4 linked regions of the Homo sapiens genome follow. The protein of the gene in region 2 purifies or fractionates together with the protein of the main gene of each other region. This does not show direct contact. Each region holds a gene or a part of one and is shown on either strand. Other genes may lie near its edges. The genes, in order: TMEM63B, SLC19A2, POMK and ENDOD1.

Region 1 (7,026 bases), on a different chromosome or scaffold from region 2:
ATACTTTAGAACAGTAACTCATGCATTCAATACTTGGTGGTCCTTCATTTAAAAAAAAAAACAATTTTTTTTGAGACAGAGTCTCACTCTGTCTCCCTGGCTGGAGTGCTGCAATACAGGGGCGTGGTCATAGCTCACTGCAGCCTTGACCTCCTGGGCTGAATCGATCCTCCTGCCTCAGACTCCCGAGTAGCTGGAACTACAGGCACTCACCACCACACCTGGCTAATTTTTTTTTCTTTTTTTAGAGACAGGGTCTCACTATGTTGCCCAGGCTGGTCATGAACTCCTGGCCTCAAGCAATCCTCCTGTCTCAGCCTCTCAAAGTTTTGGGATTACAGGCATGAGCCACTGTGTTCAACCTAAAAATTTTAATAAAATATAAAAAGATGGGGACTCAGTCTAGATTAAGGATTAGGATCAAAGAACAGTGCATGATCAGATTTAAAAACGAACTACTGGCCAGGTGCGGTGGCTCACACCTGTAATCCCAGCACTTTGGGGAGCCGAGGTGGGTGAATCACAAGGTCAGGAGTTCAGGACCAGCCTGGCCAAGATGGTGAAACCCCATCTCTACTAAAAACATAAAAATTAGCCAGGCGTGGTGGCATGTGCCTATAATCCCAGCTACTGGAGAGGCTGAGACAGGGGAATCACTTGAACCCAAGAGGTGGAGGTTACAGTGAGCTGAGATTGCACCACTGCACTCCAGCCTGGGCGACAGAGCAAGACTCCGCCTCAAAAAAAAAAAAAAAAAGCTATTAGGCTGGGTATGGCAGCTCATGCCTATAATCCCAGCACTTTGGGAAGCCAGGGCGGGCCAATCACCTGAGGTCAGGAGTTCGAGACCAGCCTGGCCAACATGTTGAAACCCTATCTCTACTAAAAATACAAAAAAAAAAAAAAAATTAGCCGGGTGTGGTGGCACACACCTGTAATCCCAGCTACTCAGAAGGCTGAAGCACGAGAATCACTTGAACCCGGGAAGCAAAGGTTGTAGTGAGCCCAGATCACACCACTGCATTCTAGCCCGGGTGACAGAGTGAGACTCCGTCTCAAAAACAAAACAAAACAAAAACAAAAACAAAAACGAAACAAAAAACAAAAAGAAACTATTCCCTCCAGCCATGGTGGCTCACTAGTGTAATGCCCACACTTTGGGAAGCTGAGGCAGGATGATCACTTGAACCCAGGAGTTCAAGACCAGCCTGGGCAATACAACAAGACCCCATCTCAGAATATTTGAAACAAACAAACAAACAAAAAAATGAACTATTCCTTCACTCAGCAAGCATTCTTCAAGCCTTGCCTGGTACCAGGTACTAGTGAGTCAGTGCCAGTTTCTCTCTGGTCAGTCTTAAGTCAAGGTAAGGATGAATCTGGGGTCAGGGTTAGGAGGTCAGTCTTGGGTCTGGGCAACAGGTCTGGGGTCAGTCTTTGGCCAGGGTGGGCTTAAGGGTCAGTCTTTGGCCAGGGTTACAGGTCAGTCTCACCCTGGTCAGGGGTCAGGATCAATCTCTTGTCTGTCTTGGGCCAAAGTTAGAGATCATTTTGTAGACTGGGTTATGGGTTGGTTGAGGTCAGTCTGTGGTCAAGGCTAAGTGTTGGGCTGTGACCAGGTCTTCTGGGAACAGGGTTAAGGAATTATATAGCCTATGACTAGATGCAATTTTTTTCAACCTAAAGGTCACAGCCCTGGACAGGAATCAGACCATAGCCCTGGCTTCCCTACCTGCATGCAGTATGTCCCTACACATCCTGGTTTGTTAGCCCAGCCTGCAGTCACACAGTGCTCAGGCCTTCTGCTCCCACTTCCCCACTCAGATAAGCATGAGGAGGAACTCCAAAGCTTTATTCTTGGGGAACTCTCAGTTTTGTAGACTAAGAAAAAGGCAGCTTGAATTGGAGATGTGGGTTTTTTTGTCTTTTTTTTTGAGATGGAGTCTCGCTCTGTCGCCCAGTCTGGAGTGCAGTGGCGCGATCTTGGCTCACTGCAACCTCCACCTCCCGGGTTCGAGCAATTCTTCTGCCTCAGCCTCCTGAGTAGCTGGGACTACAGGCACGTGCCACCATGCCCAGCTAATTTTTGTATTTTTAGTAGAGACAGGGTTTCACCATGTTGGCCAGGCTGGTTTCGAACTCCTGACCTCAGGTGATCCTCCCGCTTCGGCCCCCCAAAGTGCTGGGATTACAGATGTGAGCCACCACGTCCAGCCAGAGATGTGTTTCTTGAAGGTGATGGGGTCATGGATGAAAGTCAGGGGCAGGTGGGTGGGGTCCCTGCACAAGATGATACATGAACTGTGTTTCAGGGAAGCCTACCCCAACTGCACAGTTCTCGAAGCCCGCCCGTGTTACAACGTGGCTCGCCTAATGTTCCTCGATGCAGAGAGGTAAGGGACTGGGGGCAGAGGAGGGTGACACCAAGGGCCCCCTGCCATTGTGGAGGACATCTTGGCTACCACACAGGCTCCCCTTCTAGATTTTTTCCTAGGGCATTTGATTTTAATTCAACTCGTTGGTGTGCCTGTTAATTCAGCTCTGGAAAGAGCAAGGCCTGGAGGTTAGAGTTTGTTGTGAGGGGAAGGGGGGCCCATGGTCCCCACTGCATCTGAGGACATGCCCTTCTTTGGCTACAGTATGAGAAATTTAGGTCAGCCTGCAGGAAGAACTTCTGGCCCTCTAGGGATGGGTGGGGAGACCTTGGGATGTGGCCACATCTGAAACATGTATCCTAAACAAGAACAAGACAGCTCCTGTCCTTGGGGAGTGAGCTAGATGACCCCCAAGCTGAGCCAGCCCCAGCCCCAGATGTAGGTGACCAGGCATCTGGGTCCCACAGGAAGAAGGCCGAGCGGGGAAAGCTGTACTTCACAAACCTCCAGAGCAAGGAGAACGTGCCTACCATGATCAACCCCAAGCCCTGTGGCCACCTCTGCTGCTGTGTGGTGCGAGGCTGTGAGCAGGTATGACGCGGGCTGGCTGTTGAGTCGGGAGAAGTTGGACAGGTCCTGGGCAGGCAAGGCTGGGGCCCTGCCCTCAGTGAGTCCCCACCTGTCCCTGGAATCCTTGAAGCCTCAGTTCCCACTGTTGGGTTTGTCTAATGTCCCTACAGTGACCAGGTTTTCAAACCTCAAATTAGAAAATGTCAGCCAAAAGGACAATGTTGTGCTGTACCCACTGACTCTGGGGACTTGAGCAAGTTGCTTACTGCTCAGTGCCTCAGTTTCCTCATGGGGTTAACGTACCCACCTTATGAGAGTGTTGTGAGGGTAAAGTGAGTAATACATATAAAGAAGCTTAGAGGTGCTGGGTGCGGTGGCATATGCCTGTAATCCCAGCACTTTGTGAGGCTGAAGCAGGTGGATCACTTGAGCCAGGAGTTTGAGACCAGCCTGGGAAACATGGCAAAACCTGATCTCTACAAAAAATACAAAAATTAGCCAGGCATGGTACTGCACACATGTATTCCCAGCCACTTGGGAGGCTGAGGTGGGAGGGTCACTTTAGCCTGGGAGCTTGAGGCTCCAGTGAGCTGAGATTCCACCACTACACTCCAGCCTGGGCATCAGAGCGAGACGCTGTTTCCAAAAAAAAAAAAATGCTTAGAGGAGCAGTGCCTGGCTTGTAGGAAGCCCCAAGTCAGCGTGGGCTGGATGCTGCAGGCCCCAGCCTGGCTTTCCAACTAGAGGCCCTGTCCCTAACCCTCCCACAAAGGTGGAGGCCATTGAGTACTACACAAAGCTGGAGCAGAAGCTGAAGGAAGACTACAAGCGGGAGAAGGAGAAGGTGAATGAGAAGCCTCTTGGCATGGCCTTTGTCACCTTCCACAATGAGACTATCACCGCCATGTGAGTCCCCAACTCGGCCCTCGGCCCTGAGCAGCCCTCCAGGGCTCCCTGACCCCTGTGCTCATGGCCTTCTGCCAGCAGTGTGGCCTCCAGGTGGGCCTGTGGTAACCAGTGCCCATCTTTCTAGCATCCTGAAGGACTTCAACGTGTGTAAATGCCAGGGCTGCACCTGCCGTGGGGAGCCACGCCCCTCATCCTGCAGCGAGTCCCTGCACATCTCCAACTGGACCGTGTCCTATGCCCCTGACCCTCAGAACATCTACTGGTGAGCAAACAGGTGTCAGGGCAGGCTTTCCAGGGCCTGGGATGGGCTCAGTAGGTAGGCGGAGGAGAGGGAGTGTCTTGGTGTCACTGGGGGCCAATCCTGCCCTTGGTTCCTGGACTGACCGGTTCCCCACCTTGCCAGGGAGCACCTCTCCATCCGAGGCTTCATCTGGTGGCTGCGCTGCCTGGTCATCAATGTCGTCCTCTTCATCCTCCTCTTCTTCCTCACCACTCCAGCCATCATCATCACCACCATGGACAAGTTCAACGTCACCAAGCCTGTGGAGTACCTCAACGTGAGGCCTCATGCCCCTGTCACTTTCCACGCTGGGTCACAACACACAGATACCAGGCCCTGATCCCTCTTCCACTTGCCCAGCCCAGCCCGTTCTGCTTGTTCCAACCCCGTGCCACCAACCAGCTCCCAAAAACCCCTGTGTGCACTTCCCTTGGGCTCCCTGCCACCTTCCCCCTGAGAGAGGCCACCCTCAGGTGTGCAACACCTGGAGAAACACCCAGGGAAGAGAGAGAGCCTGCATTTAGTCCTGATCTCAGAGAAGTCCCCTTCCCTCACCCCTCAGTCTAACTGAAAAAATGGAAAGGTTCAACTAGATCAGTGGCTTTGGACTTGGATTCTGATCTCTTTATCGGTGTGAAACCCAGTGTGGAAAAGCAGGGCTGCTCCGATGACAGTAGGGTGGCATGCATGTCTGCCTGGCCTCCCCTCACCTCTCCTCCCACGCATAGAGCATACCTCTTTAGAACCTCAGAGTTTGAAGAAGGACAGTTTGCAAATCACTTGGAGTGATAATACCATAATAGATAAGACCCAGACTGCATGGATTCAAATCCCTACCTCATGGCTTGCTAGCTAGGGAAGCTATTGAATCTTTTTTTTGCCTCAGTTTACTCATCTGTCAAATGGGGTAACAGCATTATTGTGAGGATTAAGACATGGCAAGTACATCAGCACTGCTTAGAACATAGTAGATGTTCAGCAAATGCTGACTATCAGTATTATCCACCCTGGGGTTATACATATGGCCCTGGCCCCCACCCTCACCCCAGCCCTCCGGATGTTCTGGGCTTCCAACATGGGAGCCCTGAGAGTTGTGAGGCCAAGGGCCCAGCTGGGGAGGAGGCACATAAGCAAAGCCACCTGGGCCCCCTAGACTGCCCTGCCTGACGCCCCCCTGTGCCCTGCTGCAGAACCCCATCATCACCCAGTTCTTCCCCACCCTGCTGCTGTGGTGCTTCTCGGCCCTCCTTCCCACCATCGTCTACTACTCAGCCTTCTTTGAAGCCCACTGGACACGGTAAGGTGCCTCCACTCACACCACACCTCGCTGTGGCCTGCCCTCAATGACCCATCCTCTCTGGGCAGCACTTTGCCCTTCAGGCTCCTGGCCCTGGGCAGTCCCACAGCTGGTAGGGAAGGGGTAGTGCCCAGCACCCTCACCTTGGGAGGCCCACCCTTCCCAGGGGACACTCCTTGGACATTGTCCTTGTTGGGGGAGCAAGTCTGGGGCCTGGGCTCACTTGACCTGTACCGTTCCCTGCTCCCCTCCCTCCAGCTCTGGGGAGAACAGGACAACCATGCACAAGTGCTACACTTTCCTCATCTTCATGGTGCTGCTCCTACCCTCGCTGGGACTGAGCAGGTGAGTTGAGAAGGATGGGGCAGGAGCCAGGGTAGGGGGACAGCAGGATAGGGAGAGGAGAGCAGTTCAGCCTCCCTACCTCCCCTACAAAGCAAGGGGCCCAAGATGGGAAGCCTGGCCACCCCCAGGCCTCCTGAGCTACCCACCCCATGTCTGGGAGTCTCCCCAGTGGCTCACAGAGGAGGGACTTCCCCTCCCCTGGTGTTCTGTACCACTCCAGCTCCCACCCCATCTCTCCTCTGCTTCCCTCCAGCCTGGACCTCTTCTTCCGCTGGCTCTTTGATAAGAAATTCTTGGCTGAGGCAGCTATTCGGTTTGAGTGAGTGACTGGGGCCCCTAGGGAAAGAGACCAGACAGCAGGGGTGGGTATGCTTGAGAGACATTGCCAGCCCCATGGGAGGGTGCAACAAAGCTTCCAACTCCTGGAGGGGGCAGAAGAGAGAGGATCTGGCGGGGTTACCCCAAAGGCACCCACAAGGTGTCTTGGGTGTGTATACATGGTAGAAGTCCCTGGGGTCTGTGTTGGTGTTCACTCTCTGGTAACCTGTTTGGATGCTAAGATCATCCTCAAGGTATATTTGGGGCTTGGGGCTCCACATTCTGGTAGTTTCTATGGGGGTGTCTTGTGCCCATATTCTGGGACTAACTGTGGGCGTCTCTGGAGTTCCACTTGGGAGGTTTGGGGAACCATCTCTAGGGAGGTCTTGGTGATACTTAGGGAGTGTCTTGGAGGCTACTAGGGGTATCCCTGAAGGTCTCTAGAGCCCATATTTTTGGGTATGTGTAGGAGGCTCTTGACCTTATAACTCTGGGGGTGTCTGTGGGCGGGGAGGCTAAAGGACTCACACTTTGGGATGTTTAGCAGTACAAGTTCTGGGAACATCTCTAAAATTTCAGGCTTTTATTCAGAGATGTAACTGTGGAGTTCTGTATGGGCATCTTCTCTGGGAATCATGTGAGGATATATTGAAGGTCATGCACCATGGCTGTGGGCACAAACTCTAGGGGTTTTGCTGTAGGCCATCTGTGGTGATCTTTGAGTCACACTTGGGGCATCTCAGGCACTGATAAAGGTTCCTGGGCTCCCCCAGAGATGTTGCGGGAAGGGTCTCAAAGCTTGTTTGTGGAGGTATCTGAGGCTCATGTCACACTCTGGGGGTAACTCGAGTTATGGTCTAAGTGGGGGAATCTTCTGGGTGTTCCTGGGGCTGTCAGCCTTTGGGTTCTTTGAGGGTCTCATTGGGTTGTCT
Region 2 (7,026 bases):
GCTGATAATAAAGAACCATTATGAGTAAAGTCTTTCATTCTCTACTGAGAGTTAACTGAATTGTTTAAATGTGGCATCTAATGTCCTCATTGAAAATTACTCTCTTTTCTCTATCCCCGTTCTTCAGCTCTCAAATTACTACTTGAAATTTAGGTTATCATCCCAGAGAGCCTGGGTAGACTTGTAGAGCCTGGGCAACCCTCATCATGAAACTCACCTTGATTACCAGGGCACCTGTGAGCACTTTTTGTCAGAATGACCAAGGATTAAGTGGCAATGAAATGCTGATTTTTTTCATAGTTTGTTAGGTGATATTAGAGAGTCAACAGAGGGTTGATGGGGGAGGGAAGGAGGTGTGTAATCATTTCATAGATTTTATGAAGTGGAAAAAAAATAAAGACACTTCTTTATCTGTTTTGAATGTGTTACAGTGGCTTTAGCTAAAATTAACGTATATACAGATAATATGTGTATAAATATATATTTTAGATATTAACATATTGACCATAGTTCTAAAGATTTTTATAGACAGTTTCAAACTTTTTTGAATATAAGTAAGAAACATAGAAAACATTTTACATAGAAAACCTGTACATACATAGGTATGTATATATTTTATATATAACAGAAACAAGTTTTACAACAGTGTTTTATTCTGATACATTCTTTTATTTTTTTTAAATTCAGTTCACTGTCCTCTAAATCAATTTTATTGCCAACTTATGGGTGATGACCTATAGTTTTAAAAACTGTTCTAGATCAACTTGAAATACTTGTTTATAGATACACAGTGTGTCAGTATTTTATATACTGAAGAATTGTAGAATTTTAGAGTTAGAAATGACTCTAATCACAAGTCATAGAAAAAGCAGAGCATTTTAAAAAGAGATTAGATTTCATCAAGACTGTCCTTTTAGAGATAAGGATTAGGATCAGAGATTAGCAACTTATGCAGAATTGTACAAATATACTCTTGAACATAATTTAAAAGTGTGTATGAGATCCAGTTCTTTCTAAACCTTTCTCGGTGAAGTCTTTTAACTGGGGTAACAATGTCAGAACCATCATGTCAGTTACACTGTTTTCAGAATTAGGATTCAAGTCAGTTCCCTGATATCCTAGGCTCTGCTACTGATACCATAGCAGATGGGCAGTGCTGCTTGGTATTGGCACTGACTGGCCCTAAAATGCTGCTGTTTTTCTTTGGCAAGCATGAAGAAAATTCAGAATATGGATATTAGGGATCACAGAGCTATTTTAAGTTGACAAGACCTATAATTAAACCATAAATTATAATTGTGGTAATTATTGAAGAGTAGGTAGGTAGGTGGTTTTATCTTGATTTTTATAGAAAGAGAAAATGAAGTAAGAGGAGTCTAAGTGATAGCTCATTCTACAAGTTACCTTAGAGTATTTGTGAGTTATTTTTAAAGAGAGTCTATTGCATTGGGGCAAAGGGTGCTGATCTTGCAGAAAGAAGAACCAAAGCTGGTGACTTTCTTTTACAAGCAGAGCTGGATTCATTATGTAGTTGGCTGATTGGTGAAACTGATTTATTTTGAGTTCTTCATCTATTAGAAATGACATAAATTAAACCACTTCTTTAGCACAGGTTCTGACATGTAATTAATACCTAGTAAATGATTCTCTTAATATAGCCATGCTTTTATTTGTAGTTTGATATCTTTTACTACTAGTAAGTGTTCTTTCTGTGTCTGCATGTCTAAGGTCTCTAAACAATGACAACAGTGAAATTAATGCTTCCACTTTGGTATTAAATAATGTCATTTCTAGCAGCAGGGTGTAGTGAGTTACCACCTACCTCCCTCACCAAAACCCATAAAAATAAAAAACTACAATAAACCCTGAGAACCAAAATGAACGAAAATCTATTCGCTTCATTCATTGTGAGTTTTTAAGAAAGTGAAGTCCAAACCCTAGTTCTAATACTTGGGCAAGTTACTTAATTCTGTGAGATTTAGTTTCCTTATGTACATATCTACCTTATACAGTTATTTTGAGTATTTAAAGCTTTCAAATGAGTTTACATAGTAGGTTTCCAATAAATGGTAATTGCTATTATTACTATTATCATTATCATTACACGTGAATAATCCGGAACAGCTCTGTACTTTTATGGTAGATAGTCATGTATTTGTGAGGTTGTAAATAGAGCAATCTTTCCTTTTCTCTTTGAATTAATCACCCCTGGTCATCTTCATCATCATCATCATCACACCTCCTGTTTATTTTGACCTGGGTATCAGATACTGTGCTAAGAACTTTAGAGTCAGTATGTTATTTGATTCTTATTAAAACTCAATAATGTAGATATTTGCTCATTTTACAGAAGAGGAAACTAAATTTAGTTAACTGACTTGCGCAAAGGCACATAGGAAGTGGCACTTTAAAACTTTCCAACTCAGGCTGGGCATGGTGACTCACACCTGTAATCCCAGCACTTTGGGTGGGCAAGGCAGGCAGATCACTTGAGGTCAGGAGTTCGAGACGAGCCTTGCCAACATAGTGAAACACGATGTCTGCTAAAAAAAAAAAAAAAATACAAAAACTAGCTGGGCGTGGTGGTGCATGCCTGTAATCCCAGCTACTTGGGAGGCTGAGGCAGGAGAGTTGCTTTAACCCGGGAGGCAGAGGTTGCAGTGGGCTGAGATAGTGCCACTGTACTCTAGCCTGGGCAACAGAGACTCTGTCTCAAAAAAATAAATAAATAAATAAAATTTCCACCCATATCTAGTTGACTCAAAAACCACCACTACAGTAGAAACTTCCATTCCCTGATAGAGGGAAGTAATTGTTAAAGATTTTTAAATTTATAAAACAGCGTCAAAATCTTATGTTCAAATGAAATCTGAAACTAGATGCCCGTTATGATAAGTAAATAAAAATTGAGCCTTTCTGATTGAAACAGGAATGCAGGTCTGATAATTTTACATACTTGAGCCTGTTATTCATCCCACATGAAACTCTTAAAGCTCCATGGAACACAGTGAAGGCCACTTATTAAATTAGAGCATGCATGATTAACTATGAGCAGCTCAGAGTTTTGATGTAATAGAAATAAACCTTTGTTTGTAGATGTAATTTAACAAGAAACATAAAAGGTAATATGTCAAATGCTACTTTATAAAGTGTGATTCATATAAGCTTAACATTTGAAGCCTAGAAAACAGCATAGAAGGAAGCCTGCAGATTATAGCACGAGGTGCTGATTTTATAAACAGGACCTGCCATCTTTTCTTTTTGGCATGGCCAGATAATAGATTGAGTAGTTATTAACCTCTGTGTGTGGAATTCATTATTATGTAATAGATCTAAAGTTCTCAAATGCATTATACTGGGCATTATTTTATGTATGCCATGACTTTTTAAGCTATGCAATAAAAATAACACTAATTGAGCCCCTCTATAATAAATATATACATTATCTAGTGTAACTCTGTATAATCTTTTGTGGATAGGTTTTATTGTTATCATTTTCATTTTCTAGATGAGAAAAGTAAGGCTTTCTTATCAGTTTATGGTAGGATTTCTAATAGAAACTTGTGAATCCTTTTAATAGTTCCATTCTTCCAGGAATATACTTTCTTTTCTTATAATCCTTCCAGCATCCTTGAAAGTTTTAGATATCCCAGTTGTTTTCCAAGTTATATTGGTTAAGCAACTGAAGCTAAATAGTAAAATTCTGATGTAGTTCAATAAAACTGGTGGACCTTGAATAAAGACTTATGAAAATGTGCTTGGTACCATTCACTCACTCTTAGCAAATTCACATTATATATGATTAACAATTGTCTTGTGATTTGTTTAAATTCACAAGGTTTGCTCTCATACACAGTGCCAAGAAATCAATCTTGTAACAGCAGTATGTTGTACTTCTAGGTGGTTATCTTATGCAAATTCATCAAGTAGAATTTTCAAGTGTCGGTACTTCTTTCTCTGAGTTATTTTGATTAACCTCAGTACTCCTCCCTGAATTTTGGAAAGGGGCTGTAGTAATGGTACTTGAAGGATATCCCCCTCTGGGCTAAACAGCACAAAGAAGGAAGCACCACACTGGGGTTGCTTTGGGATGGTATGAGAAGGTAAAACAACGATGAAACTCGGATTCTCAGTCCAGTGAGGTTTTCTAGCCTCTGAGGGAGAAAATGGCCTTTATTTAACTAATGTTGATGGTCACTGTTACTGTATATAAGAGGAGAAAATATCTATTAATTTTATAAAAATGATATATATGGTGTGTGTGTATATATACACACACACACACACACACACACGTTTGTTTTTTGAGACAGAGTCTGTCTCTGTCGCCCAGGCTGGAGTGCAGTGGCGTGATCACGGATCACTGCAGCCTTGATCTTCTAGGTTCAAGTGATCCTCCCACCTCAGTCTCCTGAGTAGCAGGGACTACATGTGTACACCACCACACCCAGCTAATTAAATTGTGTGTGTGTGTGTGTGTGTGTGTGTGTGTGTGTGTGTGTGTGTGGAGACGGGATCTTACTATGTTGCCCAGCTTGATCTTGAACTTCTGGGTTCAAGCATTTCTCCTGCCACGGCCTCCTGAAGTGTGATGATTCCAGGTGTGAGCCACTGTGCCTGGCATCTACTTATTTTTTTAAATTAAATGTTACAGAAAGCTATATAAAAAATAAAAAATCACCTGAACTACTACCACCCAAAGATTAGTGAACTTCTTTTCAAACATCTCTTTTCCTATATACATATGTACGTATACATTTTATAGTAAATGAAATTGTGATCTACATGTAGTCTTGTAACTTGCTGTTATTTTACTCAGTGGTATATTGTACTCATCTTTCCATGGCTCTCATTTTGCCTTTCCATGTTAGCCACAAAAGTAAAATTTTCTGTGGGTTTTTTTTTTTTTTGGTAGAGATAGGATCTCACTTTCTTGCCCAGGCTGGTCTTGAACTCCTGGGCTCAAGCAATCCTTCTGTCTTGGCCTCCCAAAGTGCTGAGATTATAGACATGAGTCACTACACCCGGCCTTCCCATGTTCTGAGCAAGGCCCAGGGATTACAGTAACCTTTGGTAGATTAGTCCTTTCATACAGTTGAAATCAGAGATATCTCACAGAGTGTCTGACATCTCATATTGACTTCTTGGGATAGTGCGTAGCTCAGTAATGTCTTGCTTCACTCAATTATAAGCCCAGTAGCTTTATTTATTACTTTATTATAATACTATTTCTCATTGTTTAAATATTAAGTAATATAAAAAGTTTAAGGAAGAAAATTTAAATCACTAAGAACCCACCACCTAGAGAGAACTGCTAATATTTTGGTCTACTTCTTTCCAATATTTCTATCTTAACTGTTGGATCAGTCTGTCAATTATAACGATAGGAGGCCTTAACTGAATAGTGATTTATTAGGGTTGCTAGTCTGTTGCTTATTATTATTCTTGTTATGTTGTTTGCCAGTTTATGGGAGATGTAGATTACAGACTCCCATTGGCTGAAGCCTGCGGTCTCTTTTCATCATCTTCATTTTGTAAACAGTACATCTTTTGCTGGGTTGATTACATACAGCTGTGTTAATGCTATAGTGCATTTAAAGCAAAAATCCTATGAGAACATATTTTTCGCCAGAGGGGATAAATGTATTTGTTAATAAGTTTATGAAGTAAGCAGTTAGTTTTCACAAGGAAAAAAGTCTGTTAGGTAAGTAATTGGGCCTGTAAATTGCTTTCTATATAATTGCCTTCATCAGAGTTTGAGCATTGTTCCCTTTTGCTATGTAGGAACCCAAGCCAGACCGTCTCCTTGTATTGAAAGTACTATGGAATGATTTCCTGATGTGCTACTCCTCTCGCCCTCTTCTCTGCTGGTCTGTGTGGTGGGCCCTCTCTACCTGTGGCTATTTTCAAGTTGTGAACTACACACAGGGCCTGTGGGAGAAAGTGATGCCTTCTCGCTATGCTGCTATCTATAATGGTGGCGTGGAGGCCGTTTCAACCTTACTGGGTAAGCAATGCAGGATAATAGAGGGTCGTGGTGGGGGAGGGATTCCTCTGGTAGTTAAGCCAGCCATAATCAGATTTATTCACCCCTCCCAAATTTGAAATAGCCTCAAAAAATGATTATTTTGAGCTAGATTTTACAATTTAGGAGGACAACTTAGAAGTACTCAAGTGGAGCAGGACTATGACTAACAAACTGGAATTTTTTTATAAGCTTTGAGTAAACCTAATATAATAATTTTCAAGATTGTTTATCCAAGTTTCCATTATCTCTGTATTTACTGGGTAGTTTTGTCACTTGATGTGAAATTTTGAATGGCAATATATAATAGTTTATAACAATAGTATCTAATATTTGTTGAATGTTAATATGTGCTAGGTACTGTTCTATGGACATTATATACATTAACTCAATCCTCACAAAATTCCTGAGATAGGTAGAATTTATCCCCATTTTGCAATGGAAACTTGGGACTGGTAGGTTAATAACTTGCTCAAGGTCATATGGATGGTAAGTAGTAAAGTCAAGACTTGAACTCAGGCAGGATGGCTTCAGAGCCTGTGTATTTGACCATCTTACTCTATTGTTCATTTCTAATTTGTTGACCTACCTCCTGAGGTTGTTGGATGGTGTTATATGATTTCTGTAAACACTTATTATCTGTCTTGGCCCTCAGAAAACACTTCATAGATTTTAGCTATCCTTATCATCATCACTGTTTTACCAAAAGGCAGAGAAGCCCTTTTGCCATGTTCTAGACTGCTCCTTGGTTTGAAGGAGAGATGACTCATCCTGCCATGATGCCAAATTAGAAGCTATGGTTCTTTTTGACTCTTGCCTCTGCTTCAGCTGCAGCATTTTTTTTCCTTAGCAATGTCCCTGTGTCTTTGTCCTGCATTTTCATCTCATTGCCACCTCTCCTAATTCAGTCTGTCATCTCAGTGGCTCCATTTTATTGATTCCATCAAGTTCAGAAATTTCTGTGTGAGTTTCAAGGCCCTCCATAATCTTGAGCTATTCTG
Region 3 (7,026 bases), on a different chromosome or scaffold from region 2:
ATGTTGTAGATGGTCTCTGTAAGTTGTGAACGTATTCATGAAAAGGCAATTTATGCAAGAAATGTTGTACAATTCAAAGGTTGTTAGGCCTGTTAAATACTTCATAAAATGCCACTATGACTCTTACTGTACAACTTGCCTGCTTTATAGCTAGGTAAGGCCTGAGACATGTGGAGTTAGCCACACTCCCTAGCTACACTGGAAACAGTCAGACCTTCTGGTGTCCTAGGCTCCACTCCTGGTACGTAATTGAAATTGCTTACTCACCAGGCTTTCCACCAAAAGTAAAAGTCATTGAGTTAACAGTGTAATATGCACTTGAGACTACTGAAGAAACAGTTCTATACACGAGGCATGTAAGGGAAGTAAAATGTACTTTTGGTAAAAGATTATGAGAAGGCATGGGAATGTGGATTTCTTGCCTAAGTTTAGAGTGTTAACGGACTGTTTTAAATGAGATAGGAAAAGTCTAAAGGTTTGAACAAGTTGTGAAAGGGTTATAAAAACTTAATTGTAAGAGATTCTGTGTGTGAACATATTGGCTAAAGTTTAAGTCACGTTATGCAGTTTTTCCATAAATTGGAAATTGGAATAAAAGCACAACAGAGTTTTCTTAAAACAGTTTTGTTCTAAGAAAAAAACAAAATTGTAAAGGGTTATAAAAGATTCATAAAAATCTTACCTTATGGCAAGCCAGGTGTGGTGGCTCACGCCTGTTATACCAACACTTTGGGAGGCTGAGGCAGGTAGATCAAGGGGTCAAGAGTTCGAGACCAGCCTGGCCAACATAGTGAAACCCTGTCTCTACTAAAAATACAAAAATTAGCCAGGTGTGGTGGCACATGCCTATAGTCCCAGCTACTCGGGAGGCTGAGGCAGGAGAATCACTTGAACCCAGGAGATGGAGGCTGCAGTGAGCCGAGACCATGCCATTGCACTCCAGCCTGGGCAACAGAGAGAGACTGCGTCTTGAAAAAAATAAAAAATAAAAAAAAAATCTTACCTTATGGTCAAACTAATTAGAACTAGACAGATTTATAAGATGTAATTAAAACTGGCTTTAACGTTAAAAATACACTAATGGAAACATAAAATTCAGTTTTCTCTTTTAAAAAGGATTTTTATGGAATATTAAAAGATAATGAAAGGTTTTTATTTACCTTTTAAGTAAACTACAAAAGAAAAAAGGGGGAGGGGAGAGAGAGGAGGCAATCAGCCTCATGCTACCTTCATTGGGTCTTGTTTGGAAAGCTGAGTCTCCTACCAGAATAATGGTTTTTCCTTTTGAAAATTTTTGAGTTACTTTGGCTAAATGAATGACTTACGGAAACCTAAGACTCCATTTTGTAATATCCAATGTTTTAAACGTTTGGTATTTAACAAACCTTTCAAAATCAAGCTCTAAGTTAAAATAAAAAATTTTTAAAAATTAAGTCCCCTAAAGTACAAAAGACATATTCAGCTTATTTAATGTATTAAAATCATGCAGGAAACACTGTCAAATAGAAAATGGTGCTTAACTTTCTTTGGGTTATATTCATATAAATTTGTGATATAAAGTTACGTGCTGCAAAACTGTATAAAATTCCTACAATTCTGATATGACTCAGTATATGTCATCAGTAATAACTGTTGTGTTGAATTATTGTGTGCCACAGATTCACAAATTTCCTTGTTAATTGTGTCTTTGTGGCTTCCCTAAAATGCTTTTCTCATCCAAAGATAACTGCTGTTTTAATTTGGTCCTCTTTAGAAGATGGTTTTATAATCAGCTATAAAACTTTGATATGTGCTCTTGAATGCAAGTTTCTGATAACTCTGGAGATTATGACATAGAATAAAGGAAAAAAACTTTTAGAACTCTCATGGAAAGCTGAAATGTTCATAAATATCAAACAGAAGTTAAATGCATGGACTAAACTAATAAAAGTCTGAAGTAACCTTTTTGTTTAAAATGCTGCTGATTCTTTGCTTTTTCAGAGTCAGGGAAATTTCTTTTAAGCTATTTACAGCTTGTAGCAACTGAGTAAAGTACACTCCTGTGAATAAAATTTGGCGCATATTTGTTTCTACTTGATTTCTCCAGAATTTAAAAACTATTTGTGAGTATTCTTAATTTATGGCAATACAGTTATTTTCATAAATACAATAAGAATCTGTTTTCTTTTGTAACAGGACACTATTGAAAACACTGGTTATTTTACCAAGGGTTTGACTAGAATGGCATGCTTTCCTTTATGGAATCAACCTTGACTTGTACTTGTAAAGCCAGTAAAAGCCCTTGGGAAAACTGAGCTCATACTTTGTCTACACAGTCCCTGTACAGGGTTCCTGACCCATGGTAAGTATAGAATGTCACTTTCTGACAGGCCCAGGAGCCCCAAGTTATCTAGGGGCATCAAGAGGAGAGGAACTTACCCAACTCATAAGTATTTGAAGGTACAAACCTATGGCTGGACTCAGCTTTAGAAAGTCTTATCTGAGATTCCTTATGGAACAGAGTTCCATCAAAGGCAATTTAAAAAGCCTATGTAAAAAATAATTATTCTAGCCAGGCGCAGAGGCTCATGCCTGTAATCCTAGTACTTTGAGAGGCCAAGGCAGGCGGATTGCCTGAGCTCAGGAGTTCAAGACCAGCCTGGGCAACACAGTGAAACCCCGTCTTTACTAAAATACAAAAGAAATCAGCCAGGCATGGCGACGTGCACCTATAGTCCCAGCTACTCGAGAGGCTGAGGCAGAAGAATTGCTTGAACCCGGGAGGCGGAGGTTGCAGTAAGCCACAATCACACCACTGCAATCCAGCCTGGGTGACGGAGCAAGACTCCATCTCTACCAAAAAAAAAAAAAGTATTCTTGCCAGGTGATTACTGATTCATGCCTGTAATCCCAGCACTTTGGGAGACCAAGGCAGGCAGATCACGAGGTCAGGAGTTCGAGACCAGCCTGACCAACGTGGTGAAACCCTGTCTCTACTAAAAATACAAAAATTAGCCAGGTGTGGTGGCACTCACCTGTAATCCCAGCTACTCAGGAGGCTGAGGCAGGAAAACTGCTTGAACCCGGGAGGCGGAGGTTGCAGTGAGCTGAGATCACGCCACTGCACTCCAGCCTGGGCGACAGAGCAAGGCTCCATCTCGGAAAAAAAAAGTATTACTGATGCGCTTTATGCAAATAATCAGGCCAAGCATAATAAAATTAAAGTTTATTTTGCCAACAAATCAGTCCTATCGTGATTTGTTTTAATAAAAATAAGGACTAAAGAGAGAAAAATTATGTTCCAAAAACTATGGTACACATGTTGTTAGTTTTTTTTTTCTTCAATTTAGACTAAATCCTAATATTTTTGTGGACTATAAGTCCCCAGACTAATGCTTTCAAACCTTTACTTTTAAAACTGGAAATTGCACTCCTTATCCTAAAACTCATTATTTACCTTATAGTAGACTGTCTGTTTAAATGCTGTACTAAAACTATAAAGATACTACTGCCTTTGTCACGAAAGCCTTGGAACCACAGCCCGGCCTGCATGAATATACTCAGACAGCTGCAAAGCAGTTCTACTCCTCTCACCTTAGGGTCAACTCCGACCCCAACTATGCCCCCTGTCAGCATGAAGAAGCTAGAGTGATCAATGGCCTTTTTCCATCTTCATAGCCCACACCTTAAGAATAAGATGCTACAAAACCCCAAAGGGAGGGATTGAAACCGCCTTTGCAAAATTATAACTGAGGGCTGGGCCCAGTGGCTCATGCCTGTAATCCCAGCATTTTGGGAGGTCGAGGAGGGCGGATCACCTGAGGTCAAGAGTTCAAGACCAGCCTGGCCAACATGGAGAAACCCCATTTTTACTAAAAATACAGGCATGGTGGTGGGCGCCTGTAATCCCAGCTACTCAGGAGGCTGAGGCACGAGAATCTCTTGAACCTGGGAGGTGGAGGTTGCGGTGAGCCAAGATCATGTCACAGCACTCCAGCCTGGGCGATAGAGCAAGACTCAGTCAAAAAAAAAAAAAAAAAAAAGCAAAAGTAAACCAATGGGATTATAACAAACCAAAAACCTTCTTCCCAGCAAAGGAAACAAATAGAGTTAAGAGACAAACTACATAATGGGAGAAAATATTTGCAAGCTATTCATCTAACAAGGGATCAATATCCAAGGAACTCAAACATCTCAACAGAAAAAAATAACAATATGATCAAAAAATGGGCAAATGATCTAAACTGACATTCTCGAAAGAAGACATACAAATGGCCAATAAATTTGTGAAAAAATGCTCAATGTTACTAATCATCAGGAAAATGCAAACCAAAATCACAATGAGATACCATCTCACCCCAGTTAGGATGGCCATTATCAAAAAGACAAAAAATAACAAATGCTGGTGAAGATGCAGAGAAATGGGAACGCTTATACTCTGTTAGTGAGAATGTAAATTAGTACAGCCATTATGGAAAACAGTATGGAGGTTCCGCAGAAAATTACAAACAGAACTAACATATGATCCAGCAATTCCACTACTGGGTATATATCCAAAGGAAAGGAAATCAATATATCAAAGAGATATGCACAGCCAGGCTAAGTGGCTCACGCCTGTAATCCCAGCACTTTGGGAGGCCAAGGTGGGTGGATCACAAGGTCAGGAGTTCAAGACCAGCCTGGCCAACATGGAGAAACCCCATCTCTACTAAAAATATAAAATTAGCCGGGCATGGTGGCACATGCCTGTAACTCCAGCTACTCAGGAGGCTGAGGCAGGAGAATTGCTTGAACCCAGAAGTGGAGGTGGTAGTGAGTCGAGACTGCATCATTGCACTCCAGCCTGGGCAACAAGAGGGAAACTCCGTCTCAAAAAACAACAACAAAAAAAGAGATATGTGCATCCCGATGTTTATTGCAGCACTATTCACAATAGCCAAGATATGGAATCAACCTAAGTGTCCTTCAGCAGATGAATGGATAAAGAAAATGTGGTATATATACACAAAATAGAATACTATTCAGCTATAAAAAAGAAGGAAATCTGTCATTTATGGCAACATGAAAGGAACTGGAGGACATTATGTTACGTGAAATAAACTAGGAACAGAAAGTTAAACACTACAAGTTCTCATTCATATGCAGAAGTTTAAAAAAGCTTACTCAAAGAAGTAAAAAGCCTAACAGTTTTCTAGAGGCTGGGAAGGGTAGAGCAAAGGCGAGGATAGGCAGAGATTTGTTAAAGGATACAAAATTACAGCTAGATAAGAGAAGCAAGTTCCAGTGTTTCATAGCACCATAGGATGACTATAATTAACAATATATTATACACTCTCAAATAGCCAGAAGAGAAGATATTGAATGTTCCCAACCAAAAGAAGTGATACATGTTTGAGATGGCAGATATGCCCTGATCCGCTAACTACACACTGTAAGTAGGTATGGAAACATCACTGTGTACCCCATAAATATGGATAATTATTACATGCCAATTAAAAATAAATTGTTAAAAATCAGTATAATACCATCACAGAGTTTGAAAAACAGGAAAAGAAATTGCCCATAATCCCCCTTTCACCCTAGCACAATTTCTATCATTTTCATATTTTTTTTTTCCTTTGGAGACAGCATCTTGCTCTGTCACCCAGTCTGGAATGCAGTGGCAAGATCATGGCTTACTGTAGCCTCAAACTCCCCAGGCTCAAGAGATTCTCCCACCTGAGCTTCCCAAGTAGTGCGCACCATTATGCCAGGCTAATTTTTGTATTTTTGTAGAAACTGGGTTTTGCCATGTTGCCCAGGTTGGTCTGGAACTCCTGTGCTTAAGTAATCCGCCCACCTCCGCCTCCCAAAGTGCTGGGATTACATGTATAAGACACTGCGCCTGACCATTTTTGTATTTATCTACATATACACGTAATTTCACAGTTGAAAAGTCAATTATACAATTTTATATCTTGTTTTCTTCACTTATCATCATAAGGTTTTATTCATGTTGCCTCTTGGGGTTCCTAACTACACAACAGTTGCAGAATATTCCGTCAAGTGGATGGACCATCATTTAATGAACTATTCTAAAAGTTTTGTTTCTAGTTTTCTATCACTATGGCACTCTTTTATGCATTTGACTTTTTTCCTGCCTTGGATTACTTATTAAGATAAAGTCCGATTGGGAGGCCGAGGCAGGTAGATCACTTAAGGTCAGGAGTTCAAGACCAGCCTGGCCAACATGGTGAAACCCCATCTCTACTAAAATTAAAAAATTAGCCAGGCGTGGTGGCATATGCCCATAGTCCCAGCTACTCGGGAGGCTGAGTCACGAGAATCACTTGAACCCAGGAGGTGGAGATTGCAGTGCACCGAGATGGCGCCATTGCACTCCAGCCTGGGTGACAGAGCGAGACTCTCAAAAAAAAAAAGATAAAGTGCCAGATGTAAGATTATTGAGCTCAACAATAAAAACGTAGAGCTAGCAGGGCTCCTAACACTGGATGCCACACTGCTTCCCTAAGGGCTGAAACCTATGCCTACTGCAGCACTATTCACAATTGCCAAGATACAGAATCAACCAAAGCAAATGTGGTGCACATATGCAATGGAGTACACTTTGGCAGTAACAAAGGATGAAATTCCGTAATCCGTGCCAGCATGGATGGAGCTGGAGGACACTGTGTTAAGCGAAATAACAGGATGACAGCAATCGCAAATGAACCCGGACTCACTCTCTTTACAGCTCCTTCCCCAACACGCTTCAGCTGTCTCACTTCTGTTCTCAGCTCCTCGCAGGACAGCCAAGGTGAGCAGTTTTTCATCTGTCCTATCCTGAAGTGACCATAGGGACAGTGTGTGGGGTCCACAGTGGATTGTCGAGGAGCGATGAAGAAGTGGTCGAGGCAGAGGTAGAGCAGAGTATTCATCAGGGCCATGATCAGCAGCAGCCCAACAGCTGGCGGCACCTCTCGGGGGGCGAGGCCTCTCCTGCTGTTCTGGGGCTGCTTTTCCATGTTGACGGCCTCTGCAATTTCCTAAAATACACAATGAAACAAG
Region 4 (7,131 bases), on a different chromosome or scaffold from region 2:
ATGCTTGGAAGCCGCCAAGGGTACACATTGAGCCCTGAGCATCTTTCTGCAGTGGGGATCTTGGCTGGGAGGCAGGGCCTCAGGGAGCAGGCAACAGTGGGGGCAGGTTTGCTGCAGTGCACTCCAGGCCCAGCTGCACCTCACACCTCCTCCTCCCTCCCTCTCTCCCAATACTCTCTGGATCCTGGCTGACTTGACTTGAGGTCGAGCGGGTGGATGTGGGAGGCCAGCCACCTTGCAGGGAAAAGCATCCTGCAGTGCTCAGCCACAGTGACCATTCTGACCTCTCAGCACAGCAGGAACTCAGGCCCCTTGTACTCTTCAGAACCGCTGTACATCTTACCTCTCAAGCTGCCATTTGTAACTATTTCCACCCTCCCTTCCCATCTTCTTTAATCTCCACAGTCCCCTTCCTCATTATCTCACCCAGGGTCTCCATGTTACCTGGTTCCCTGTACTTCTTTCTGTCAAACTATGCTCCTTTACGACTCACTCCTTCCCTAGCTGCATAAATGGCTCTGCCTCCCTAAGCCTTCCTTGGTGGCTCCTCCCCACCTGATCCCTCCCTTCCATGATTCCTTTTTATTCTGAGCAATTGAGTGCATTCATCTATTTGTATTAGTTTACCTGTTCCAACTTCTTCACGCACAAATCCCTGAATCTGCCATGCCTTTCTCACTCATGATGTTTGTTCCCTCTGCTTGAAATGTCCTCCTCCTTGCCTCCCTTCTAAACTCTGCCTTATCTTTCCACACACAGCAGAAATGTCATCCTGACCCTAAGGCTTGCTTCCATCACCTCAAAGACAGATTAAATCTAATAGGACTTTGTTCACCTTTATTAAATTATGGTTTTTTGCTTAGGTCATAGCAACAGCTAGTACTTAGTACTCATGTGTCACACACCTGAGAACTTTATATATGGTAACTCATTAAATCTTCACACCACCCTATGCTATTATCTCCAATTTAACCTGCCCAAGTTCATAGCTAGTCAGTGGAGCAACTAGGATATGAACCCACATAGCATGGCTCTAATCAGATACTACACCACCTCTCCACCCAGCAAACTCCACCTGCAGATCAGGTAGCCTTTGTTCCAGAACTGCACTCAGATCTCTTGGTCCCAAATATCTGGCACACAGCAGGAGTCACTAAATGTGTTCTGAATTTAACTGAAATTTGTTTAGCATCCATTCCCATGATTTCCTCAGACGTATGTTCTGTCTCCCCAAGCTGTCCATGAGATCAAGGGGAAAGAACTAGCTCATTTGTTTTCTTCGCAGGCACACAATCACAATGCAAGATGAGAGGTGGGGAACACCCTGTGAGCTCTAGGGGTGCAGCTGGTGGAAAACTAATTTTGGATTTAAATGTGTCTTGTGTGTGCAACTGACAACGTCTTTTTCACATGCCTGATCTCGACAAGTGTTATCAACAGTTGAGGTAGGTGGAAGGATGTGAGGAAGATAAGAAAACTAGGTGCAGATTGTTTGAGACCTGGCCAAGACCTCAGAGCTAGAAATATCTGAATGAGATTACAACCCACAGGCTCTGAATAAAGCACCTGAAAGCCAGCCTCCTGTCCACTGGTGTGGTCCTGGGCAGCTGTGGCCGTCAGGAAAGGGAGAGCGTTGGGTCAGTTCTTCCCCCAGCAGCCTGGGCAGGGGTGGGAGGCTGGTGAGAGGGCAAAGGGGAGTCTGGCAGGGTGTTCTAGAGAGGAGGCCAACTGAGGAGAGGTATTAAGAGCAGGCCAGCAGGTTCGGAAGACTCTGAGGGCTTCTCAAGTGTTTGGTCACCTTTACCAGACGGGACAGAACACCATGAGAGGTGACACGATTTCCTAGTGGTATGATAATATAGATATGAGGAGTCAGGAAAAACTGGCTTATCTTTCCATCAGTTGGAGGTAGTCAATGTTTCCCTATCATTTTTAACTACCCCATTGCGTTTCTAAAAATCTGTATCTTTATTTCATTGTTCTAATTCAACACAACCGCAGATCGAATTTACTCAACGCCGTGGTAGAGGAAGGATTTTCAGGCTAGGATGAGCTCTGCAGAAGAGAAGCTTTACTTAGTAGAAAAGGCAGTGAATTTCTAGACAGAGACCTGCCCCATCTTACTAACTGGGTAGTCTTCCATATGTCTCTTCACCCCCTGGGTTTATCTCCTCTTCTGTAAAATGGGGATGAAAATGCCCACCTACCCACCTCCAAATGAGTGCTATGGCAATAAGTTGCACGAAGGCCTGTGAGCGCCCAGCCTAGGCTTTCTGCGGATCTGAACGGTCTCCAGGGTCTCTGTATCAAGCTCTTCACCATTCAGGAATGAAACACTGCGGATGTCTGCTCAGAAATGCAGGGAGAACCTCCTCCCACAGGGGACCTCCCGCCCTGCAGCTCATGAAGTGAAGGCTCGCAGATCGCCAGGCTCTTATTGTAGCTCGACAGGGGCGAGGCAGGCTAACTCCGGGGACGCAACAGGGTGGACCTGGAACCCGGGTTTCTTGGCCCAAGGCACCGAAGGCGTAGGGATTGCTGTTCCCGGCCCGCCCCTCGCGGTAGCTGCAACTGGGGGCATGTCCAGCGGCACGGTCTCCGGCGCCCGCAGCCCGGCTCGGGAACCACTTCGCTTACCTGCGGCTCCACCAGCCATCGCTGCTCGGCGCCGCCGGGCGCAGGGCGCGGGGCGCGGAACGCGGAGTACACGGGGATGCGGTCCCGGGTGCTGTAGAGGGTGGCGAAGCGCTCAGCACCCTCCGCGCGCTGACAGATCTTCACGTGGGAATCGGCCGCCAGCCCCGCAGGCGGGGTCCCGGCGTAGAAGAACTTGTCACATTCGCCAAAGCCGGCTTCCTCCTCGCCCACGAGCCGGCCTTCCAGCAGCCCAGCCAGGGCGAAGAGGCTGCCCAGCGCGAGCCAGCGCGCGGTGCCCATGGCGGCCTCTGCGAGCGCGGCGGGGCCGAGCGGCTGGGCTGCCGCGGCGCGAGCTCTGCAGGCTGGGCGGGGAGCGCACTACGCAGCCGAGCAGGGTAGGGAAGGGAAGTCGCAACCTAGGCGCGGCGCTCTGCGGAGCCGGGCGGGGCGGCCCGGGCGGCGGGGGCGGGTCCGCGTCGGGAGGCCGCGCCTCCCTCCCTGAAGATGGCTGCAGAGGCCCAGGGCCGCGCTCCGCGATGCTGACAACGTACCCTGGGCTGCGCCCGGGACTGGAGACGCGGGTCACCTGCCTCCGCGCCGCCTGGTCTCAGCAGTCCGGGGGACGCGCGCTACCAAGAGTGGAGAATCCGAGTGGGGCGGGCCTAGTCCCGGGGCTGGGAAGAGATAGTCGCATGGACTGGGCGCCAAGAAGCCTGCTGATCGCGCGCGCCCCACGGCCGCCCTGGTGATGCAGAGGGGTGGCGTGAGATGCTCGTGGAGCTGCGGCTGGTTCGGAGTGGATGGGCAGAGTTCCCCTCTGAAATTTCATGAAGATGCGTCTCCCACTCTCCACCGAAGTACTCAACGACCAGCACACGCATACAATTTTGATGGAGTTTTTTGTTTTTTGTTATGTTTTTTTAGCTCACCAGAAACTCAGAGAGTAAAGAAATACTGTTAAAGGAAGTTCCTAAACTAGGCAGACAGTATAACCCTGTGTGGTTTTCTTGGTGCAAGTGTTAGAAACAAAACCGATACCAAGCAAGGAAGGAGGCCAGCCAACGTCATTGGTCAACAGGTTGGCCAATTCTTTCCTTCATTTATCCCTCTGAATGCCTAGGTGCCAGCCTGAGATAGGCACTGGATTACCACAGGGGTAAACAAGAGCAGGGCTCCTGCGGTCACAAAGACAGCCTAGTGGGAAAGTTTGTCATTAACCGAGGAAACATGCTATTAAAGGGATAACTAAAAACTGAACACAGATCTGTGAGACCCTGACAGCTACAGGGGTTCAGGATGTAATCCGGGAAGGTTTGCCTGAAGAAGTGGCATCTGAGCTGAGACCTGGAGGATGACATTAACTAGGCAAGGAGGAAAACCATGTGCTAAGTGGTCTCCCACAGAAGGGAACATGATGTATTGGAGGAATTTAAGGAAGGCTAGTGTGGGTAAAGCGCGGAGAACCGCGTGGGGGATGATGGGAAGTGGGGCTAAAGGAGGAGGCAGGGGTCATATTACTCAGGTTATTATAGGCCAGAGGCCTTCAAACACTTTTTGAGAAGGCCCATAATGAGAAAAGTTTGATGAAATAATTCTTATGCTTATGATTGGCATTGCAATTTCATATTTCTGTTCTACTTCACTTTTTTAAAAAAGTGCTGGTGTTGACCCACTAAATTGTTTCTATGAGCCACTAATGGCTCATGACCTGCAGTTTGGAAAAAATATTGTAAATCATGTTGAGGATTTTCATCTTTTAAAGGTGGTGACTCGATTCTTTTTGCTATCAGGGAAGAGACTGGTAGATTGAAGTGGCACAGAATAAATGGGTGGCTCACACCTGTAACCCCAGCACTTTGGGAGGCTGAGGCAGGCGGATCACCTGAGGTCGGGAGTTTGAGACCAGCCTGGCCAACTTGGTGAAACCCGTCTCTACTAAAAACACAAAAAAATTAGCTGGGTGTGGTGGCGGGCACCTGTAATCCCAGCTGCTTGGGAGGCTGAGGCAGGAGAATCGCTTGAACCCAGGAGGCGGAGGTTGCAGTGAGCCAAAATTGTGCCACTGCATTCCAGCCTGGGCAACAGAGCCAGACTTTGTCTCAAAAAAGAAAAGGAAAAGAAAAGAAAAACACCCCATAATTGCCACAATCCAGATAAGAGATGGTAGCTTGGACCAGGATGGTAGGATGGTGGCAGCAGAGATAGGGTCAAGGCAGCTACCCAGGGCCAGGGCCTGTGCTCATCTTACGATGTCATCTGTTTCCCCAGTGTGCCACTACAGGGACTGAGACCAGAGCCTGTTGATTCTGGCCTAAGCTGGCACAGCCAGTGAGTCCTAAGACAGATTTGAAACAGGTCTCTCTGCTTCCCAAGCCTGGCCTTTTCTTTTAACTCACAGCGCATCTGTAAGGTGAGCCCATAAAGAAGGAAGCTCTTCAAGAGATTATACATTGGAACTTAAGAACAAATTTCTTACAGGTTTTAATTCCGGAAAATGTTGACTATGTTTGGTCCCAGAAATGAAACCAAAGTTTGTATCTTAGTTTTTTTAAAAAAAGGAGGGGACACATTTAGTGTGATGTCACAGAAGAGGCTAGACTTGAAGTCCCCTTTGATCTGGATGATGACCCTGATCATCTGGTACTAGTATCTCAGTCATCTCATCCTTGTAGGCTTCAATCAAGTCCTCCCACAGGGACAATGCTGCTCCTGGGATGCTGGGAGGATTATAGGTTTTACAGGATTTTAAAAATATTTACATTATTTTATAAGGTTGAATATAGGGTTCCCCAATGTTGACTTATGATGTCTACCATAAAGATATATAAACACAGTTGAACAACTAGAAATCCATCCCTCTCTTCTCTGAGTTCTTTAAACATTTATCTGTTATGATACTTATCATGGTAGAGTGTTAATAGTCCCTGTATCTGTCTTCTTTATTAAATCATGTGCTCCTAGGGACAAAGGTGGTTGGTGGATCCCAGTGGCTACCACAAAATCTGGAGTGATTAGATGCCAAATATGATTATGTTGTATTTTAACAAATGCAGAAAGTATAATACAATCATCATTGGCCTTTATGACTAAAGTATTTATAAGACTTTAATTCACTTTCTCAAAATTTCTTGATGCCTGCCCGCCACCTCTGATAAGCATAAATATCTCTGCCACTCAGTCCCTGTGGCAGACTTTAGTTTTTTCCCCAGCCCTCTATCAGTGACTGACACACATATAACACTGAACATTTGTACATCCCACAGCCAGGATGATTTTGTTTATTTTCTTTAGTTTATAGTACAAGACAATAGATTTTTCTTCCATGTGCTTGCCTTCCACAGATAAAATATTACTTTTGCAAATTACAAATGTTCTCACCCCAAGATTCTGGAACAACCTACAAGGTAGGAATGCCTTGATCTAATTAAAACATTTGCTAACTGCTGATTTTAGGGGAAAACTGTCTTTAGCAGCATCTGTATGTGTAAAACATGTAGGTCCATCAATAATTCACTGCTGTCTCTACATTTGGTCACTGACTCTCTTCTCACAGGGAAAGAGGTTTCAAACCAGATCCTCTTAGGTCTCTGCACTCAGACCCAGCCAAAGCTGGGTTCCATAGCCTTCAGCAAAGGCTTGAGGATGAAAAGTAATGGTTGATGTGGAATAAAACATTTGACATGCACTTCTGTGGCTTGGTTGGTTCTGTCCAAAGTTATTTAAAAATATGAGCCCAACTAGACACTTCTTTCCCCTGCCTCACTGCTCTGATGATAATTGCATCTCTACCATCACACCTTTGACCAAGCCATCCTCATTTGTCATGCCCAGTTTTTATCCCGTCATCCCTTCTAATCCACTCTCCAGCTGGGATGACTTCCTAACATAAATCTGATGATGTCACCCTACCCTTACAGCACTTAATCACTCTCCATTTACCTTGGGATGCAGCCTGACATACTAGCTGACTTCCATGACCCCAGAGACCTGGCCTTTCCCTCTCAGGCCTCATCTCTCTCCACTCCCACCTTGCCCACACGCTCAGCTTCTTATATTTCCATGAATGCACAGTGTTCTCTCTTTTGTTTTGTTTTTGAGACAGGGTCTCTCTGTCACCCAGGCTGGAGTGCAATGGTGCAGTCACAACTCACTGCAGCCTCAATGTCATGGGTTCAATTGATCATCTCACCTCACCCTCCTTAGTAGCTGCAGCTACAAGCGTGTGCCACCACATCAGCTAATTTTTGTATTGTTTGTAAAGACAGGGTTTTGCTATATTGCCCAGGCTGGTCTGGAACTCCTGAGCTCAAGCGATCCATCTGCCTTGGCCTTCCAAAGTGCTGGGATTACAGATTTGAGCCACTGAACTCAGCCTGATGCTCTCTCTAGTCTTTGAAACTTTGCATCATAAACTACTTCCCTTGTCCTGGAATTCTCACCACCCATTCTCATCCCTTCACTCATTTCATCTAGCTTTTTTTTTTTTCCCAATAG

The links.
Region 1: the proteins of SLC19A2 (region 2) and TMEM63B purify together in Homo sapiens (affinity purification with mass spectrometry; 2 studies listed by BioGRID and IntAct, with this or other methods). This does not show direct contact.
Region 3: the proteins of SLC19A2 (region 2) and POMK purify together in Homo sapiens (affinity purification with mass spectrometry; 4 studies listed by BioGRID and IntAct, with this or other methods). This does not show direct contact.
Region 4: the proteins of SLC19A2 (region 2) and ENDOD1 purify together in Homo sapiens (affinity purification with mass spectrometry; 2 studies listed by BioGRID and IntAct, with this or other methods). This does not show direct contact.

Annotation. Positions count from the first base shown.
Region 1 is NC_000006.12:44,144,535-44,151,560, forward strand, and holds part of TMEM63B (mechanosensitive cation channel TMEM63B), read left to right. Parts: intron 1-2,312; coding exon 2,313-2,393; intron 2,394-2,842; coding exon 2,843-2,966; intron 2,967-3,717; coding exon 3,718-3,851; intron 3,852-3,978; coding exon 3,979-4,116; intron 4,117-4,257; coding exon 4,258-4,411; intron 4,412-5,324; coding exon 5,325-5,431; intron 5,432-5,689; coding exon 5,690-5,776; intron 5,777-6,029; coding exon 6,030-6,095; intron 6,096-7,026. UniProt on the Homo sapiens protein: Mechanosensitive cation channel with low conductance and high activation threshold. Osmosensitive cation channel preferentially activated by hypotonic stress.
Region 2 is NC_000001.11:169,468,945-169,475,970, reverse strand, and holds part of SLC19A2 (thiamine transporter 1), read left to right. Parts: intron 1-5,784; coding exon 5,785-6,007; intron 6,008-7,026. UniProt on the Homo sapiens protein: High-affinity transporter for the intake of thiamine. Mediates H(+)-dependent pyridoxine transport.
Region 3 is NC_000008.11:43,103,506-43,110,531, reverse strand, and holds part of POMK (protein O-mannose kinase), read right to left. Parts: intron 7,005-7,026; 5' UTR 6,984-7,004; coding exon 6,702-6,983; intron 1-6,701. UniProt on the Homo sapiens protein: Protein O-mannose kinase that specifically mediates phosphorylation at the 6-position of an O-mannose of the trisaccharide (N-acetylgalactosamine (GalNAc)-beta-1,3-N-acetylglucosamine (GlcNAc)-beta-1,4-mannose) to generate phosphorylated O-mannosyl trisaccharide (N-acetylgalactosamine-beta-1,3-N-acetylglucosamine-beta-1,4-(phosphate-6-)mannose).
Region 4 is NC_000011.10:95,085,734-95,092,864, reverse strand, and holds the start of ENDOD1 (endonuclease domain-containing 1 protein precursor), read right to left. Parts: upstream 3,020-7,131; 5' UTR 2,938-3,019; coding exon 2,638-2,937; intron 1-2,637. UniProt on the Homo sapiens protein: May act as a DNase and a RNase. Plays a role in the modulation of innate immune signaling through the cGAS-STING pathway by interacting with RNF26.